2 separate regions of the Homo sapiens genome follow, and region 1 is linked to region 2. Evidence: fine-mapped expression QTL. A gene starts in region 2. The other region holds a variant in brackets. All regions are shown on one strand. Distances are from middle to middle. Region 1 overlaps GPBP1L1 (GC-rich promoter binding protein 1 like 1). Region 2 holds the start of TMEM69 (transmembrane protein 69).

Region 1 (8,649 bases), 43 kb after region 2:
GCTAACAGAGCCAACCGTTTTTCTGGAAAGCTCGTAGGGCATATTTGAGAAGAGCAGCAGTTAATCGGGAGTAGTTTTCCGTAATGGAATAACAAGTAAATACAGGGGCTCTGGGATAAGGTATGAAGGATCTGACTGGACCAGTCAAGAGTTCAAACCACACAGTAGTTTGAATAGAGAAAGTTAATATAAGGAATTTAACTATAGCAAGATTGGAGTAATGAAGGATTGACTAGTACAAAGTAAAAAGATCTTTAAAGAAAATAGAAATAGCACGTAGTCACAGTTCAGTGGCTCACGCCTGTGATTGCAGCACTTTGGGAGGTCGAGGCAGGGCGATTGCTTGAGTCCAGGAGTTTGAGACCAGCCTGGGCAACGTGGTGAAACTTTTGTCTCTACAAAAAATTTAAAAATTAGCTGGACGTGGTGGGTACCTGGTAGTCCCAGCTACTCAGGGGGCTGAGGTGGGAGGATTGCTTGAGTCTGGCAGGTCGTAGCTGCAGTGAGCCCAGATGGCACCACTTCATTCCACCCTGGGTAACAGAGTGAGACCCTGTCTCAAAAAAAAAGAAAAAAACATACACACAGACATATATGCATACATACAAGGAGCAGCCACTACCCTTAGGGCTAAGACAGTGTGTCCAAGAATGAGTCCCCCATTTCCCTACCACCACCCCAGGGCTGAGATTCATACCTGGTTAGAAAGGGCTCAGTTGTGGCTCACTGAATGGCAGAGTAATTGCTGATGTGCTTCTCTGGGGAAGCGTGCTGAAAGGCTTTTCATGAGAGGTGTCACTCTGCTACAAAACTACTCAGATGAGGTGCTGAGGGAAGCTGCTGGTCTCTGAGCTCACTTATATGTCAGAACCTGGCTTTGAGGAACTGGGTGCTGTGGGAGCCTGCTGAAAAACACACAGGAACAGGAAGTAAAAATCTCTCCATTGTTCTCCGCTGGCAGAAGTTAACATGCCAGCTGTCAAAGGAAAAGTTTTAAAGTGTCCAGGCACATTTTTGCTCAACAGGCAGAAGGGATGACTTTGTGACTAAGAAGCGGTAACCAGCACAGGGTTCTATCGTTGTTCATGCTAGCTGGCCACTATACCCTTCCAGAACAAAGCCCGTCACTGAGGACAAACTGTTGGAAATATAATCCAGATTGAGCTGCAGAGAGACAAGTTAGTAGAGACGAAAGGAAAGGTTCAGATAAAAGCGGTAGGGAGAAGATAACCAGGACATTAAAGAACGTAAACCCGGGAGGCAGAGGTTGCAGTGAGCCAAGATCGCACCATTGCACTCCGGCCTGGGCAACAAGAGTATGAAACTTGGTCTCAGAAAAAAAAAAAAAAAAATCCTAAGAAGTTGGTTTAAAAAAAAAAATCATCTGGGAAAACTCAAAATAAGGGGCTAGAACTCTTGAAAAGAAGTAATAATAAAAAATTTCAGAAAAATACTGAAGAATAAAGAGAATAAATAATATTTTTCAAGAATTAGACAGCGAAGGAAAATTTTTTAAATGAAGGAGAAATACATAGGTAAAAAATTAAAACTGGGAAAAAAAAGTTTGGCAGAAAAGATCTAATATAGATATATAATAGGATCTTCCCACCCCGCCCCCAGAAAGAAAACCAAAATAAAGGAATAGCTTAAATACTGACAAGTGGCCGGGTACGGTGGCTCACACCTGTAATCCCAGCAGTTTGGGAGGCCGAGGGGGGCAGATCACGAGGTCAGGAGATCGAGACCATCCTGACTAACATGTTGAAACCCTGTCTCTACTAAAAATACAAAAAATTAGCCAGGCATGGTGGCGGGCGCCTGTAGTCCTAGCTACTCGGGAGGCTGTGAGGCAGGAGAATGGCGTGAACCCGGGAGGTGGAGCTTGCAGTGAGCTGAGATCGCGCCACTGCACTCCAGCCTGGGGACAGAGTGAGACTCCGTCTCAAAAAAAAAAAAAATACTGAAAAGTATAATTCAGGAACATTTTTCTGAAATACATTTAGATTTGAATCTACAAATTGAAAGGATAGCCAGGATGACTAAGACATACTCTTACAAAATACTAGACTTGAACAAAAAAAGAAAGATATCCTTTGGCCATTCAGGCATAAAGACTGAGTTGTTAAGAGAAAGAAAACCAGATAGACTGTGACAGCAAAGCTTTATAACAAGTAAATGGAGTAACAATTACAATAAAGAAAATGTGAGCCAAAGATTTTGTGCTTTGTCAAGCTAATGTTCAGTTATAAAGATCACAGACAAACATCAATGTGTAAGTACTTGGAATATTGCTCTTTCCGGCATTGTTTCGCGCTGCCACAATGGTGTGTGTGAACATCCTACCTGTTGCTCTCAAGAGTATCACCAATGCCGAAAAGAGAGGGAAACGCCGGTTCTTACTAGGCCATGCTCCAAAGTCATTGTCCAACTTCTAGCTGTGATGATGAAGCATCGTTACATTGGCAAATTTGAAATCATTGATGATAACAGAGCTGGGAAAATTGTGAACCTCACAGGCAGGCTAAACAAGTGTAGAGCCCCAGCTTTGATTTGCAACTCAAAGATCTAGAAAAACGGCAGAACAATCTGCTTCTATCCCAACCATTTGACTTCGTCATATTGACAGCCTTAGCTGGTATCATGGACCATGAAGAAGCAAGACGAAAACACACAGGAGGGAAAATCCTTGGATTTTGTTTCTAGGGATGCAATACATATTTACAAATAAAATGCCTCAAAAAAAAAAAAAACAAAAAACTTCGGAATATCGTTCCCAAGACTTTTCCTGAGAACTACTGAAGAACAAGCTTCTGACAAACTAACCAGAAAGATTACAAAAGGAATGGTGGTAAATACTAAATGTATGGTTAATTGTAGAGCTAAGAAGAAATGAGGGTTAAAAGAGAGTTAGCATGTGATAGTTATATGATCTCACAATCTGGACATAGTATAACTTTTTTAAAGTGGGAAGATGGGGAGAACATGTCCAAAAAAAACAAAACATTTTGGTCACTGGTGAAATACTGACATTGCTATTCTGAAACTTGTGCATAATATGGAATAAAGCAATTAAATATGATATTCTATACTTTGTATGCTTGAGAATCAGGATTCTTGTAGGAGGAAATAAAAACGTAAAATAGATGTTCCGTAAAATCCACAAGGGTACTCAGTTTGAATTGGGAATATCAGTAATAAGTTATGAGGTGTTTTAGCTTTGGAGTGAAAAATACATACTTCTAGGCGGTTCTGTCCACTGAAAAGACATAAAAACAGTGAACAACCCCATAGCAATGAGTGGCTCTACTGCCTGGATTGTGATCTTGAAATAGTTTATCCAGACAGCATACTTAAAAGAAGAGCTTGGAATATTTTTTCAAACTAGATAACAAAGAAGTAAAGAACTACTTAGGGTTGTAGCAAAAGGATTTAGAAGCCAAATTGAAGAGGGTTCCATAGGCCAAACATGGGACAGTTTTATGCATCAATTAATAATAATAACGACGAGGGTTGAATCACATCAAATTGGATTTAAATCTGTGAATTCACAATGATACCTACCTCACCTTAGGAACAAGCATGTATCATATTTTTTCTATATGAACTGTACTGTTGAAT[T/C]GCCAAATAGGGGAAGTTCCTATTTATGGAAGTATACTACTTTATAAAGAATTGTAAAATTAGATCATTGTTTTTGCATCTTGTATTGAGCTGACAGTTTTAGGCTATGAGCACCAGTGTCTGCCAGCATCACTAAAAGAAGCACAACCACATGTTATTTGTGTGTGTCTCCTAATGGAAGAATACAAAACCACTAAGGATTCTGTAACCTCTAGAACCAACTACCAATTTATAGAAAGAGGCTTAAGATTTTCTAAAAACTAGTAGATTAAAAGCTGAGATTGTTTTTGGAGACAAAACTATAGTGTCAAGGGAGACACAATGGGTTAGTAAAAAAAAAAAATGCAGTGATCACCATAAGTATGAGTAGTTTTGGGGTTTTTTTCTAATGAGATTTGTAATGTCTTTCTGGTTTGTCTGGTAATGTTATGTTGCTTAAACCATGTAGTGTTTAAAAGAACTTTTACCCATTAACTTATTCATTTGTTTTATATTTTTCCTGTTTATATTTTACAAGTTTTAAAACTGTATTTTTTAAAACAGTAGAAAGAGATCAAAGATACTGTATAAATAGGAGCATTGTCTCTGAGAACCCTGGGTACAACATGCCTATTAAAATGAAACAAGGAAACAACCACAGCTTTTATGGCTGGGCACTCCTTCTGCCTCTACCACTCCATCTAGAGGAATGTATTTACCTGTCCTTGAAAATCTGTCACTGATTTGTCCACTTATATAGAGAGTTGGTAGTTTCATTTGCATTTGTGCTTGTTCTCCTATTGTAGTGGTTCTCACCTTGATTGCTTGGAAAATACATACCTGCTAGAGGCCCTGCCCCTGGAGATTCTGATTCTGAAGCTCTGTAGTGGAGCCTGGGTGTCTTTTTGTTGTTTGTATAATGTTCACAGGCAATTGTGCTGAAAAGCCATTTTCCTGCTGGGCACAGTGGCTCATGCCTGTAATCTCAGCACTTTGGGAGGCCAAGGTGAGTGGATCACTTGAGGTCAGTTCGAGACCAGCCTGGCCAGCATGGTGAAACCCTGTCTGTACTAAAAATACAAAAATTAGCTGGGTGTGGTGGTGCGCACCTGTAATCCCAGTTACTCAGGAAGCTGAGACAGGAGAATTGCTTGAACCTGGAAAGTGGAGGTTGCAATGAGCCAGGATTGTGCCACTGTACTCCAACCTGGGCAACAGAGTGACACTCTGTCACAAAAAAAAAAAAAAAAAAAAAAAAAAAAAGCCATTCTCCTACCCTGTTACCAGATCGTAAAGTTTGGGCTAGGACAGCAGTGTCATACGATTAGTTATTAAGTCTAGTCTATTGCTCTTAACTCTTCCCTGCCCTTTCCCTTATCTCGTTCTCTACTTCTGTTACCTTTATTACCCTCCCGGACTATGGAATTGATCTCCTAATGGTCTCTTAGTTGATGTTTAAATACCTCAGATCCATCCTTTAAGCTGCTACTAGAGTGACGGTTGTAAGTTGATAATTAGATAATGTTAACTGCATGAAAGATGGATCCTCATTACCTGTAGAATAAAACTTAATCTCCCCTAAGAAATCCTCCACAAGCTGGCTCTTGCCTGCTTTGCCAGATACCTCTTTCCCCACAGAAGGGTCCCCTCCTTCCCTAGCACTACTCATGCTGAACTATTTGCAGACCTGAATATTCTGTTCTTTTTAATGCTTTCTGTTCCTGGAATTACCGTTTTTCCAGCTTTGGAATTCATCTTTAAGGATTCTTAAATCACCTGTTAGTAAAGCCTTTTCTGATAGCACTTCTCTTTCAAGTAGAATTGATGTTTCTTACTGAGTACTCCTTCTTCCCTAATATGAATTTTTTTCATCGTCCTTGTAACCTTTTATTGTACTTAACTTGTCTAGAAGTTTTTATAGCAAAACTGTGACCCGTGTGAAGACAGGGGCTCTTTATTGTATTTCTAGCACAGTCCTTGGCATATGGTCTGCCCCTGCCCTACACCCATCTTAGAAATGCAGTGAATACTATACATTTCACTGACCACATTGTCCTCCTTTAATCTGAGGAAAATGATCCACATTCTTGTTCATCTAACTTTCAGTGCCTCCTTATTTGGCATACATATCCTATAGGAAAGTGGGAATTCGCACATTTAGTCTGTTTATTTAAAATAAATGAAATCCCTTATATCAAAGGAAATGAAACTCAGGAGAACCTAATATTAACATAATACCTATTGATTTTGTGTTTTGATATTTTCTGTTTGTTACGTTTCTGAATACAGTGTCAAATTAGTAAGTGTTGCTAATATGTAAAATATGTAATTATTTGATAGGTTCCATGGTGATGGCTACTTTGTGAAAAGTGCCAAAATGATCAGCTTTCTGTATCAACCATTCATATCCCTTTTTTCCTAGCCTTCCTTGAATCCAGAAGCTGGCAAACAGCATCAGCCATGCAGACCTATTGGGACACCTTCTGGAGTATGGGGTAGGTAGATTTTGCCATTTTAAAGGCACAACTTTAAAATTTTTTCTTAGCAGGGAGGGGAGCAAAGATTCCTTATCTCTTTTTATCTCTTGTTTCTCATCTCATGCATTTGCCCATGGTAACTAACATCTGACTGTAGCGGGTTATTCTGCCCCCTACCCCACCGCCCAACCCCCAAACACCACTGAAATGTTACCATGGTAGTAGAGTCAAAATACAGACAACTGAGAACTTATAGAACCGTGAATTTGGAAGCAGTTGTTTTGGTGGTGTTTGTTAGTCTGTTTGTTTGAGACAGTCTCATTCTGTTGCCCAGGCTGTAGTGCAGTGGCGCAATCTCAGCTCACTGCAGCCTCCACCTCCCTAGCTGGGACTACACCATGCCTGGCTAATGTTTGTATTTTTAGTCCAGACAGGGTTTTACCATGTTGATCAGGCTTGTCTTGAATTCTTGGCCTCAAGTGATCCACCCATCTTGGCCTCCCAAAGTGCTGGGATTACAGGCATGAGCCACCGTAGCCAACATGGAAGCAGATTTTAAGTAGAAAAAGTTCATGAAAAGTAACTTAATTAACATTGCTACTTCACTTACTTTTTTTTTTTTTTTTTTTTGAGATGGAGTCTCACTCTGTTGCCAGGCTGGAGTGCGGTGGCGAGATCTCAGCTCACTGCAACCTCAGCCTCCCGGATTCAAGCTTTTCTCCTGCCTCAGCCTCCTAAGTAGCTGGGAATACAGGCCTATGCCACCACGCCCGGCTAATTTTTGTTATTTAGTAGAGATGGGGTTTCACCATGTTGGCCACGATGGTCTCGATCTCTTGACCTCATCATCCGCCTGCCTCGGCCTCTCAAAGTGCTGAGATTACAGGCGTGAGCCACCATACCCAGCCCATAACAATATATTCTTAAACATTCATATATATGTATGTTTAAATATTCGTGTGTGTGTGTGTGTGTGTGTGTGTTTATGTGTATGTGTGTGTATATATATGTTTGTGGTTTTTTGTTTTGTTTTGTTTTGTTTTTTGAGACAGAATCTCACTCTGTCGCCCAGGCTAGAGTGCAGTGGTGCGATAGGAATCTGTATTTCAAACCAAACCTCATCTGTGGCATTGGGATCTTTGGCATTTACAAATTGGACTCTCCTGGTTTCTTCATTAGACATGTTGATAGCCAAGAACATGGGAAGTCTTTAACATATCTAAATGATGGGTTTAGAATCCAGTATTGTAGGATTAAGATTGATCGATGTACCTTCTCCTCTTTGCTAATGGTGTATACCTTTGCTCCAGTTTGCCTCATCAGAGGGTTTCATGGCAGACTCCAATCCCTGATTACCTCATCTCTCTATTCTCATGCTGACAGGAGCTGCTACTTTTAGGTGTTTTTTTTTGTTTTGTTTTTGTTTTTTTGAGTTAGGGTCTGACTTTGTCATCCATGCTGGAGTGCAGTGGCACAGTCATGGCTCGCTGCAGCCTCGACCTGGGCTCAAGTGATTCTCCCGCCTCAGCCTCCTAAGTAGCTGGGACCACAGGTGTGCACCACCATGCCTGGCTAATGTTTGTATTTTTTGTAAAGATGGGGATTTGCCACAGGGTTTGCCAGCCCAGGCTGGTCTCGAACTCTTGGGACTCAAGTGATCTGCCCACCTCAGCACCTCCAAGTGCTGAGATTACAGGCATGAGCCACAGTGCCTGGCGCTTGGATTTATTCTTGTTGGGTTCATGCTTAACTGATCACACTGTCCATCAGACATATTGTGCCCCTGAAGGACTGCTAACATCTTTGGACTTCCTGGCTGATTTATAAATTTAGTATCCAGTTCCTCATATGCTGCATTTTTTTGTACAGTTCCTGAGTAGTCTCACTTTTGAGAGTATCTATTAAGTGCATACCAGGGAATGTTTAATCCCTCTGTCTCAACTGTCAGCTGTTTTGTTGACTAAGGCCTTTGTATAAACTATGCTTCATGTTACACAACAGGTTTGACATTCTGTTGTCTCTCCACTCTTGTACTTCACAGAAAACCCGCCTAGTGCCAAGCAACCCTCCAAGATGCTAGTTATCAAAAAAGTTTCCAAAGAGGATCCTGCTGCTGCCTTCTCTGCTGCATTCACCTCACCAGGATCTCACCATGCAAATGGGAACAAATTGTCATCCGTGGTTCCAAGTGTCTATAAGAACCTGGTTCCTAAGCCTGTACCACCTCCTTCCAAGGTATGATTTAGAATCAGGGCAAGAACCTTATACAAGAGAGGTTTGGGAATAAATCAGGAAAAAATTAATAAATTTGTTTTTTCTTGCCGCATCAGTCACCAGATATTCTTTCAGTACCTGTTATATGTATACAGCTTTCTTTGCTTTTTTTTTTTTCTTTTTCTTTATTTTTTTGAGACAAGGTCTCACTCTGTCACCCAGGCTGGAATGCAGTGGCACAATCATGGCTCAGTGTGACCTCAGCCTCCCAAGTAGCTGAAACTACAGGGGCACGCCATTATGCCCGGCTATTTTTTTTATTTATTTTATTTTTTGTTTTGTTTTGTTTTTTTGAGATGGA
Region 2 (8,649 bases):
TCTCGAACTCCTGACCTCACGTGATCTGCCCGCCTTGGCATCCCAAAGTTTTGGGATTACAGGAGTGAGTGACCGTGCCTGGCCTTATTTTTTTTAATTTTTACTTTTTGAGATGAATTATTCCTCTGTCACCCAAGCCAGAGTGCAGTGGCACAATCTCGGCTCACTGCAACCTTTGCTTCCTGGGTTCAAGTGATTCTTCTGCCTCAGCCCCCCAGGTAGCTGGGACTACGGGCGCCTACCACCATGCTGAGCTAATTTTTGTATTTTTCCGTGGAGACAAGGGTTTTACCATGTTGGCCAGGCAGGTACTGAACTCCTGACCTCAAGTGATCCACCTGCCTCAACTCCCAAAGTGCTGGGATTTCAGCCGTAAGCCACGGCACCTAGCCAATTTTTTTTTTTTTTAAACATCGTCTTGCTGTGTCACCCAGGCTGCAGTGCAGTGGCATGATCTCAGCTCACTGCAGCCTCAACCTCCTGGGCTCAAGCGATCCTCCTCTCTCAGCCTCCCAGGTAGCTGGGGCTATAGGCGTGTGACCCCATGCCCAGCTAATTTTTTGTAGAGATGGGGTTTTGCCATGTGCCCAGACTGGTCTTGAACTCCTTGAGCTCAAGTGATCCCACCCACCTCGGCCTGCCAAATTGCTGGGACTACAGGCGTGAGCCACTGCACCCAGCCTGATATAATAAACATTTTACTTACTTGTATTTTACTTAACTCTTCCCTCCATCACCTGAATATACAAGGGTAAGGATTTTTGTCTTTTTCACTGCTACTGACCTAGCCCAAGCAATATTTGGCAAATAGTGCTCAAATATCTGCTGAACAAACCAACCTTTGAAGATGCTTGAGAAAACTTCTGGATGAAGCGAAGCATACTGGCCCCTATTGAAAGTCTTGTTCAGGAAGATGCCAGGTAGTTCTGATTAACATGTTACAGCTAAGCAGAGGCACTGAATCAGGGGCATGTTTCTGTGTATAACACAAGGTGTCACTTAATTTTCCTCATTTTATACATTAATTTTTAAATAGTAGTAATTCATGAATATAACACTTTCCTTTGAAAAGAATCATTAATGTTTTCAAACTGTCGGTAACACAGTAACAAAATAGATCCTTTTAGTATCTGAACTGTTCTTTTAGCTTTGGCTGTCTAGTGTAATAGAAAGAGTAATGCACATAGAGATTTTACAGATACTTCCACCATTTCCTAGCTGTGTGACACTGGGCAAATTGCTTGAGTACTGGTTTTCTCATCTTTAAAATGAAGGGTCTTCTAAGTGGTGTTTTTGTGAAATTAAAAAAAAAACCAAAACAAAACTGGAAGGTCATAGCTTCTGTTTCCTTTTTTCCTCCTATTTTGGGGCTTAAGAGTTCACAACTCAAAATAACGATAGTACCAACCAATATAATTTAGGTTTTTTTAATTTGTTTGTTTGTTTTGAGACAAGAGTCTTGCTGTGTCGCCCAGGCTGGAGTGCAGTGGCGCGATCTTGGCTCACTGCATCATCTGCCTACCGGGTTCAAGCAATTCTTGTGCCTCAGCCTCCCAAGTAGCTGGGATTACAAGCTCCTGCCACCATGTCTGGCCAATTTTTGTATTTTCAGGAGAGATGGGGTTTCGCCATGTTGGCCAGGCTGGTCCTGAACTCCTGACCTCAGGTGATCCAACTGCCTAGGCCTCCCAAAGTGTTGGGATTACAGGCATGAGCCACCGCGCCCGGTGAGCATTAACTCATTTAATGCTCAAAATAACCTCATTAACTTAGTACTGAGAGAGAATAGCCTGTTGGAGTGCAGACTTTGGTGTCAAACTTGGTTGGAATCCTGGCTCCACTACTTATTAGCTGTGTGTCTTTGAACAAATTATTTAATCTTGTTATGGTGCAGTTCATTCACCTTTGAAATATGGATACTAATTCATAGGGTTGATGTAACATTTTTTTTTTTGGATACAGGGTCTCGCTCTGTCACCCAATCTGGACTGCAGTGGCGTGCTCTCCGCTGTCTGCAGCCTTGACCTCCCGGGATCGAGGGATCTTACCACCTCAGCCCTCTAAGGAGCTGGGACTACAGGCCACGCCACCATGCCCAGCCAATTTTTTTTTGAGACGGAGTCTTGCTCTGTCGCCCAGGGTGGAGTGCAGTGGTGCCATCTCAGCTCACTGCAAGCTTCGCCTCCCAGGTTCATGCCATTCTCCTGCCTCAGCCTCCTGAGTAGCTGGGACTACAGGCATATGCCACCACGCCCAGCTCATTTTTTGTATTTTTAGTAGAGACGGAGTTTCACCATGTTAGGATGGTCTCGATCTCCTGACCTCGTGATCCGCCTGCTTTGGCCTCCCAAAGTGCTGGGATTACAGGCATTAGGCACCGTGCCTGGCCCCAATTTTTGTATTTTTTGTATAGAAGGGGTTTTGCCATATTGCTCAGGCTGGTCTTGAACTCCTGAGCTCAAGCAATCCACCTGCCTCGGCCTCCCAAAGTGCTGGGATTGCAGGTGTGTGCCACTTAGCCTGATATAACACTTAATAAGTTACTACATGTAAATAGCTGAGAACCGTCCCTGACACAAAGCACTTTACACAGGAGGGACTGATTAAAAACTCTAATGTAAGCAGCCAGTAAAAACAGGTGAATGATAATATGGATCTAGATCTGACAATTTCATTCTTAACCAAGAGAATGGGATGTCTAAAAAAACCTACAGTTGCTGCTTAATTTTAAAAAATCGATTGGGCAGGGCGCAGTGACTCGCTCCTGTAAGCCCAGCAGTTTGGGAGGCCGAGGTGGGTGGATCACGAGGTCAGGAGTTCGAGACCAGCCTGGCCAACGTAGTGAACCTCCCCCCCGTCTCTACTAAAAATACAAAAAATTAGCTGGGCGTGGTGGCAGGCGCCTGTAATCCCAGCTACTCGGGAGGCTGAGGCAGGAGAATTGCTTGAACCTGGGAGGCGGAGGTTGCAGTGAGCCGAGATCGCGCCATTGCACTCCAGCCCACGAGACAGTGCGAAGCTCCGTCTCAAAAAAAAAAAAAAAAAATCGATTGAACTAATTTATTGATCACAGATCTTAGGGCTGGGTCAAGAAATCCTGTATACCAGTTAATGTCTTCATACTATACTTAAGGAAGCAAGTAGGGAGGTAAGTAATCCTGGGCCTCCGAGTAGAATTTAGATCACACCCACACCCACCCACCTGAGCCCCAGACCAAAATGCCCGCAGAGCGTACCCATCACTTTTGTTCAAAATCACTTTCTTCTTAAGGACTTTCCAGACCACTCCATTTAAAATCTCAACCATCCCCCCATCTTTGGAAACTCCCTTTCCTCTGTGGCACGTGCTTTCCAACTAGTGGGTATTAAAAAGTGATAACCTAAAAAGTCCAGGGACGGCAGGTGATGCGGGATTAAGGACTGAGACTCAAAGCTTAATCCTCCTAATATAAATGAAAAAGCTCAATATTCCCATTGCCCTGGTGGGAAGACTGCAAACTGCCAGCTTCAAACTGACCTCTGAGAAAGGAAGGCGGGGTTTAGACGCCAGTGTCTTCGGGAAACCCTGCCCGAGAGTGCCCGCGTCTCCAATTTACTACCAACCCTTGGTGCCCTCCCATCCCAACGTCGCAAATTTACTACCAACCCTTGGTGCCTCCCATCCCAACCTGCACCTGTGGCGACTTTGAGACTTGCCAGCGTTGCACGGAGAGAAGGAAAACAACCGCAACAACAGCCCAGGTCCACTGGAAAGGCACTTCCGGCAAGTGGATTCAGAGAGGCCCCTACTTCCTGAGGGCTGAAAAAAAATGAGTCCGGGTAGGGACTTGACCTGCGCTAATTGGTTCCTAGGCCCGGCTTTCTGTTTGGGGGCCATTCTTAATTTCTAGTTGAATCCAGATGTTGAACGGTCCTTGAAGTTCTATTCCAGGGCTCCCAGGCAGCAGAATCTGCCCACAGAGTTCGGGTAAGTAGAGTGCAAGTACTGAAACAATCTCAGAATGATGGTGGTGAAGGAAGGTAAGAGACGGGATTTTAGGCCCAGTGTGACCTGAATTGCTTGCCATCTGTGGGACTTATGTTTTACTTTGCAAAACAGGGTTTATAAGGCCTATGGGGACACATCTCACTGCATTAGGGCCCTTTACTATCATTTAGAGGGGGAAAAAAGCCCAGTTCTTACATCCATTTTCTTTGCTGGGACCTATAAACTTCATTAAGGGTTAAAGAGCACAAGAGCAGGATTTTCACTTCCATGAAAGGTGTGGTGATAAGGGCCCTAGGCTTGGGGGTGGTTCGGAAAGTCAGATCATTTCTCCTACTGCCCTCGGCTTTATTTCTCGGCTATGTGACCTTGGGCAAGTCCCTTCTCTTATCTAGACTTGTTTCACAGGAAATGGCACCAGGCAATTTTAGTGCCCTTCCGTGTCTATGGATAAAACTGAAGACATGTAGTAGGAGATCTCAGGGGCCCACGCCGGCCAGTCCCTCCAATCCTCCGGATTCTAGGTAGTCTAGCTTCCTGGTTGCCAGCCATTACACGGTTTAGCTTTCCGTGCCGGATGGAGCCACAGCGAAGTCTTCCTTAATAGTAAGCGCTTTTAGTCGAGCTAGGCCTTCAGTTTTATTGCCTTCTCTGTCATGGCAGCGCCGCCCCTTCCAGTAGTGCGATACCCAATGAGACTTCAGGTAGGAGAAACGGCACTGTCGCAAGCGCAGGCTCTCGCCGGAATCCCGCCCTTCGCTTGGGCGGGGGAGTGACGCCTGCGCTCCAGGGGAACTACTACTCCCAGCGGGTAGCGCGGCCGACGCAGCCGCGCAGCCTCCGGGGCCAGGCCGTGTGGCCCGCTGGGGACTGGAGTCTCAACGACGCGCACACGAGAAGTAAGGAGCGGAAGGTGGGAAAGGGCCGGAAAACACACGTTCCTCCGAAACCGGTTTGCAAGTCCTTGTAGAGGTAGTTTCGGGACGCGCACTGGCCAAGGGGCGGGCTGTGGGAGGGTGAAGAAAAAAGGGATACACACATGCATACCCACCCACTCATTCATACGCGCCCAGGCCCTGGAAGTGGGCAAGGGGGTTAGAAGGGGCGTACTAAACTAGGCTTGTCCGTGCCTCAGGCGGCACGAGGAAAGGCAGAGGATTCAATTCTGTAGGGGGCAGAGGTGACCATGCGCCGCCTCAAGCGGCGAAGAAGGGAGCCGGGGGCGGGGCAGGGCATAACCGCCGTTCTGGAGGCCGAACGTTGGCAGCGTAGGGAACTGGCGTCCGGGAGGGTCGCCGGAGCAGTCCCTTGCGCATGCGCTTCTTCAGGTGGGCGTGTGTAAGGCGGGGTCGGACGGGGGATGGGAGGGCCGTGCTGCTGGTCGCTCCTCCTCCTCCACCCGCTCTGCCCCTCCTGGACCTTGTGGGCCGGGCAGCCATTTTGGGAAGAGCTTTGTTATGGTTGTGGACTAGCCGCCTCTGCCGGGTCGACAAGCTGGGGACGCGTCCTCAGACGCAGCGTCTAGTCCCTGGCCATAGCTCCGCCGCTGCCCGGTGAGTGGGAGTTTGGGAAACGGGGCAGTAGGAGATCCTGGAGTCGTTCTGGCGCGGGGCTCCGCCCGGTGCCTAACCAACGGGCTGTTAAAACTAGTTGAAAGAAGCTCTCACACAGGTGGTTGGGTATAGGTCCGACCCGAGAGGGGCGAGCGGAGCCCACGGGTCAAGTGGTTCGGATGCGGCACCCCCGCCTCCCCCGTGCATGGAGCTTTGCACGCGAGCGTCGCCGGGGCTCCGCGAAAGCGCTCCTACTTTAACTTCGGTCGTCGGGTCGGAACGCTCACCTGCGGCTCTTTGGCTCCTCTCCAGGCGATCCGGCTTGGTGCTCGTTGAGTGACTTGGCTTACGGGTTTTTTTCTTTCCTTCTTGAAATGAGAGCTAAGGGCTTTTGTTTTCCTTCAAAGGAAAACCTAAGGAGGAAAAAGTGTAAGTCAAATGTTGGATATCTGAGGGGAAAAAAGTTTTAACCCCCAGCTTTCCGGTTCTCTGTGGTAGCGAGGTGTTTTCGCTTAGATTGAGTCTATCCGATATCTACCAACCTCCTTTCCTTGGAGGGGCAGGGAAAGCTGGTCGATCCTGAAATGTTTTAAGTGTTATTTTTTTTCTGTTGTTTTAAATCTAGTTCTCCCCAACCCGTGAAATTCGAAAGACAGTCTGAATCCAAAATGGCTGTAGCTTGGGGAAGTGCCCTGCCCTTCGATTACTTAAATACATTAACGTTTAAAGATTTTAGTCCTTTCCCCTGTGGGGACATTAACTGAATCTTTTGATATTTTGGTTTTTTGCAGTTGGTGTCTCACCTTTAACTCTCCTTATGCTGGGTGAAAACAAAGGTGAGGCTCACAAAGTTGACTATTCCAAAAGTTTACATAAGAATGGGTGCGGTGCGGTGGTGTGTGTGTTTAATAGTTGCTTATAGTTTTGAAATTGTGCTGTGGTGTCAATTTTATCTGCCAACTTCGTGCTCTGAAGTTGGCTTGTCATATTTGTTGAAATATTTTTAACATTGACATTTATTGCTTACCAGAAAAATACAGTTAATAATAGTGGTTCATGTTTTAGTTTAGTAGTAAGTCGTGTTCTTGTGTAAATCTTATCCAAAAGTAAAGTGATTGGTAGTCACTCCTCATTAGACTTATATTTGTAATTTAGTAGACTGCTGATCTTTTCTAAGGTCTTTTTTATCCAATATTTGAAAGGAAATTAGGGTGCTATTAAGTTTGAGATATTTACTAGAATAGTGTAAGACATTTTAACAAGTGAAAACATACTTTAGGTATGGAGTACCTGATTGTCGTGCCCTTTTGAACAAGAGACTGTCTTTTGTTTGCTTTTTTTTTTTAATCGATAGATCCAGAAGTTTAAACAAAAAGTCATAGATTGGAAACCAAAACCAATAAATTTCAATATTTGGAAAGGTGCTGAAGCCTGTATCTATTTAAAAGATAAAAGAGTGAAATGCTAATTGTGAATGAGAACTTTGAAATTAATAGTAAAATAAACTCATCTTTCCTAGGGAGTCAGTTTTCAATGTACCTTTTGACGTTTTTTCAAATACAAAAGTTGGTTTTTGTTAATACCCCTAGGATTTTTTGTTGTTGTTGTTAAATTATTTTGGTGGTTTTACAGGAAAAATATTTAAAGTTTTTAATAGAAATTACAAGCTAGTTGCTTTGTGTTTTGTCACTGTTAACTACTAAACTGGAGTGAGATATTGATTTTTTGGGGGGGTACTCAGTGGTTTGTACATGTTAATATAAACATTCAGTTGATTCTGGATGGTGTCTTTATCAGAGCTCTTGATTTGTGGTGTGGGGGGAACTCTTGGGGAAACCTTTATTTTGAGCGAATTCAATTTACTAGATTGCTCATCAGTGGCTGTTAAAATGCTTAGCTGAGGAGGACACATTCAACCATTTAAATTTAGAATGATAAGAAATCTGGTGCACATTTCTGCTTGTAATTCATTTTTAATTTTGAGTTAAAGATAAGACACAATCGTGAATCATACTTCAGAAGATTGCATATCTTTATTTTATGGCTATAACTCTGATGTGCCAGGGACTGACTGCTGTTTAAAGTGCTTTGTATTTGTTACTTACTTTTTTTTCCTTCTTTTCTTTTCTTTTTCTTTTTTTTTTTTTTTTTTTGAGACGGAGTTTCGCTCTTGTTGCCCAGGCTGGAGTGCGGTGGCTTGATTTCTGTTCACTGCAACCTCCGCCTCCTGGGTTCAAGCGATTCACCTGTCTCAGCCTCCCGAGTAGCTGGTATTACAGGGGCTCACCACTACGCCTGGCTAATTTTTTGTATTTTTAGTAGAGATGGGTTTCACCATGTTGGCCAGGCTGGTCTTGAACTCCTGACCTCAGGTGATCCGCCTGCCTTGGCCTCCCAAAGTGCTGGGATTATAGTCATGAGCCACCGCCCCCGCCCGGCTTGTTGTTTACTTTTATAAGTATACTGGTTTATTTGTTTTGTTTTGTTTTTGATACGGGGTCTCACTCTGTCACCCAGATTGGAGTGCGGTGGCATGATTTCAGCTCACTGCAGCCTCCACCTCTCAGGCTTAAGCAGTCCTCCCACCTCAACCTCCCTAGTAGCTGGGACGACAGGTGCGTGCCACCGCACCCAGCTAATTTTTTTTTTTTTTTTTTTTTGTATTTTATTAGAGAGGAGGGGGAGGGTTCATCCTATTGCCAAGCTGGTCTCGAACTCAGGGACTCAAGCAATGGTCTCGAACTCAGGGACTCAAGCAATCTGCTCACTTTGGCCTCCCAAAGTGTTGGGATTACAGGCGTGAGCCACAGCGCCAGGTCTAAGTAGATACTGTTTTATACCCTATTTTGTAGTTGAGGAAAAGGAGTCCAGAGATTCATCCAGCTGGTAGGTAACAGTCTATATTCAGGCCGGGCGCGGTGGCTCACGCCTGTAATCCCAGCACTTTGGGAGGCCGAGGCGGGCGGATCACGAGGTCAGGAGATGGAGACCATCTTGGCTAACACTGTGAAACCCCGTCTCTACTAAAAATACAAAAAATTAGCTGGGCGTGGTGGTAGGCGCCTGTAGTGCCAGCTACTCGGGAGGCTGAGGCTGGAGAATGGCATGAAT

The links. PIP is the estimated chance that this variant, and not a neighbour inherited with it, causes the effect. A credible set is the group of variants that fine-mapping cannot tell apart.
Region 1: its variant is the best candidate, but not a certain one, in a credible set for the expression of TMEM69 in whole blood (INTERVAL, PIP 0.74).

What each region holds. Positions count from the first base shown.
Region 1 is chr1:45,639,870-45,648,518 of GRCh38, reverse strand. It overlaps GPBP1L1 (GC-rich promoter binding protein 1 like 1), which reads left to right. Exons shown (of 13, transcript NM_021639.5): 7 at 6,020-6,092; 8 at 8,116-8,309. It also overlaps the pseudogene RPS15AP10. Among named protein-coding and RNA genes, the nearest start is that of CCDC17, 20 kb to the right of the region's middle. The variant T/C (reference allele first, on the strand shown) is at 3,619.
Region 2 is chr1:45,683,301-45,691,949 of GRCh38, reverse strand. It overlaps TMEM69 (transmembrane protein 69), which reads right to left and starts at 3,769. Exons shown (of 3, transcript NM_016486.4): 1 at 3,675-3,769; 2 at 840-976. The coding sequence starts at 881. GPBP1L1 (GC-rich promoter binding protein 1 like 1) reads left to right here and starts at 5,417. Exons shown (of 13, transcript NM_021639.5): 1 at 5,417-5,538; 2 at 6,330-6,374. RefSeq lists enhancers at 3,758-3,827, 4,777-5,106, 5,127-5,246, 5,317-5,366, 5,427-5,576 and 1 more.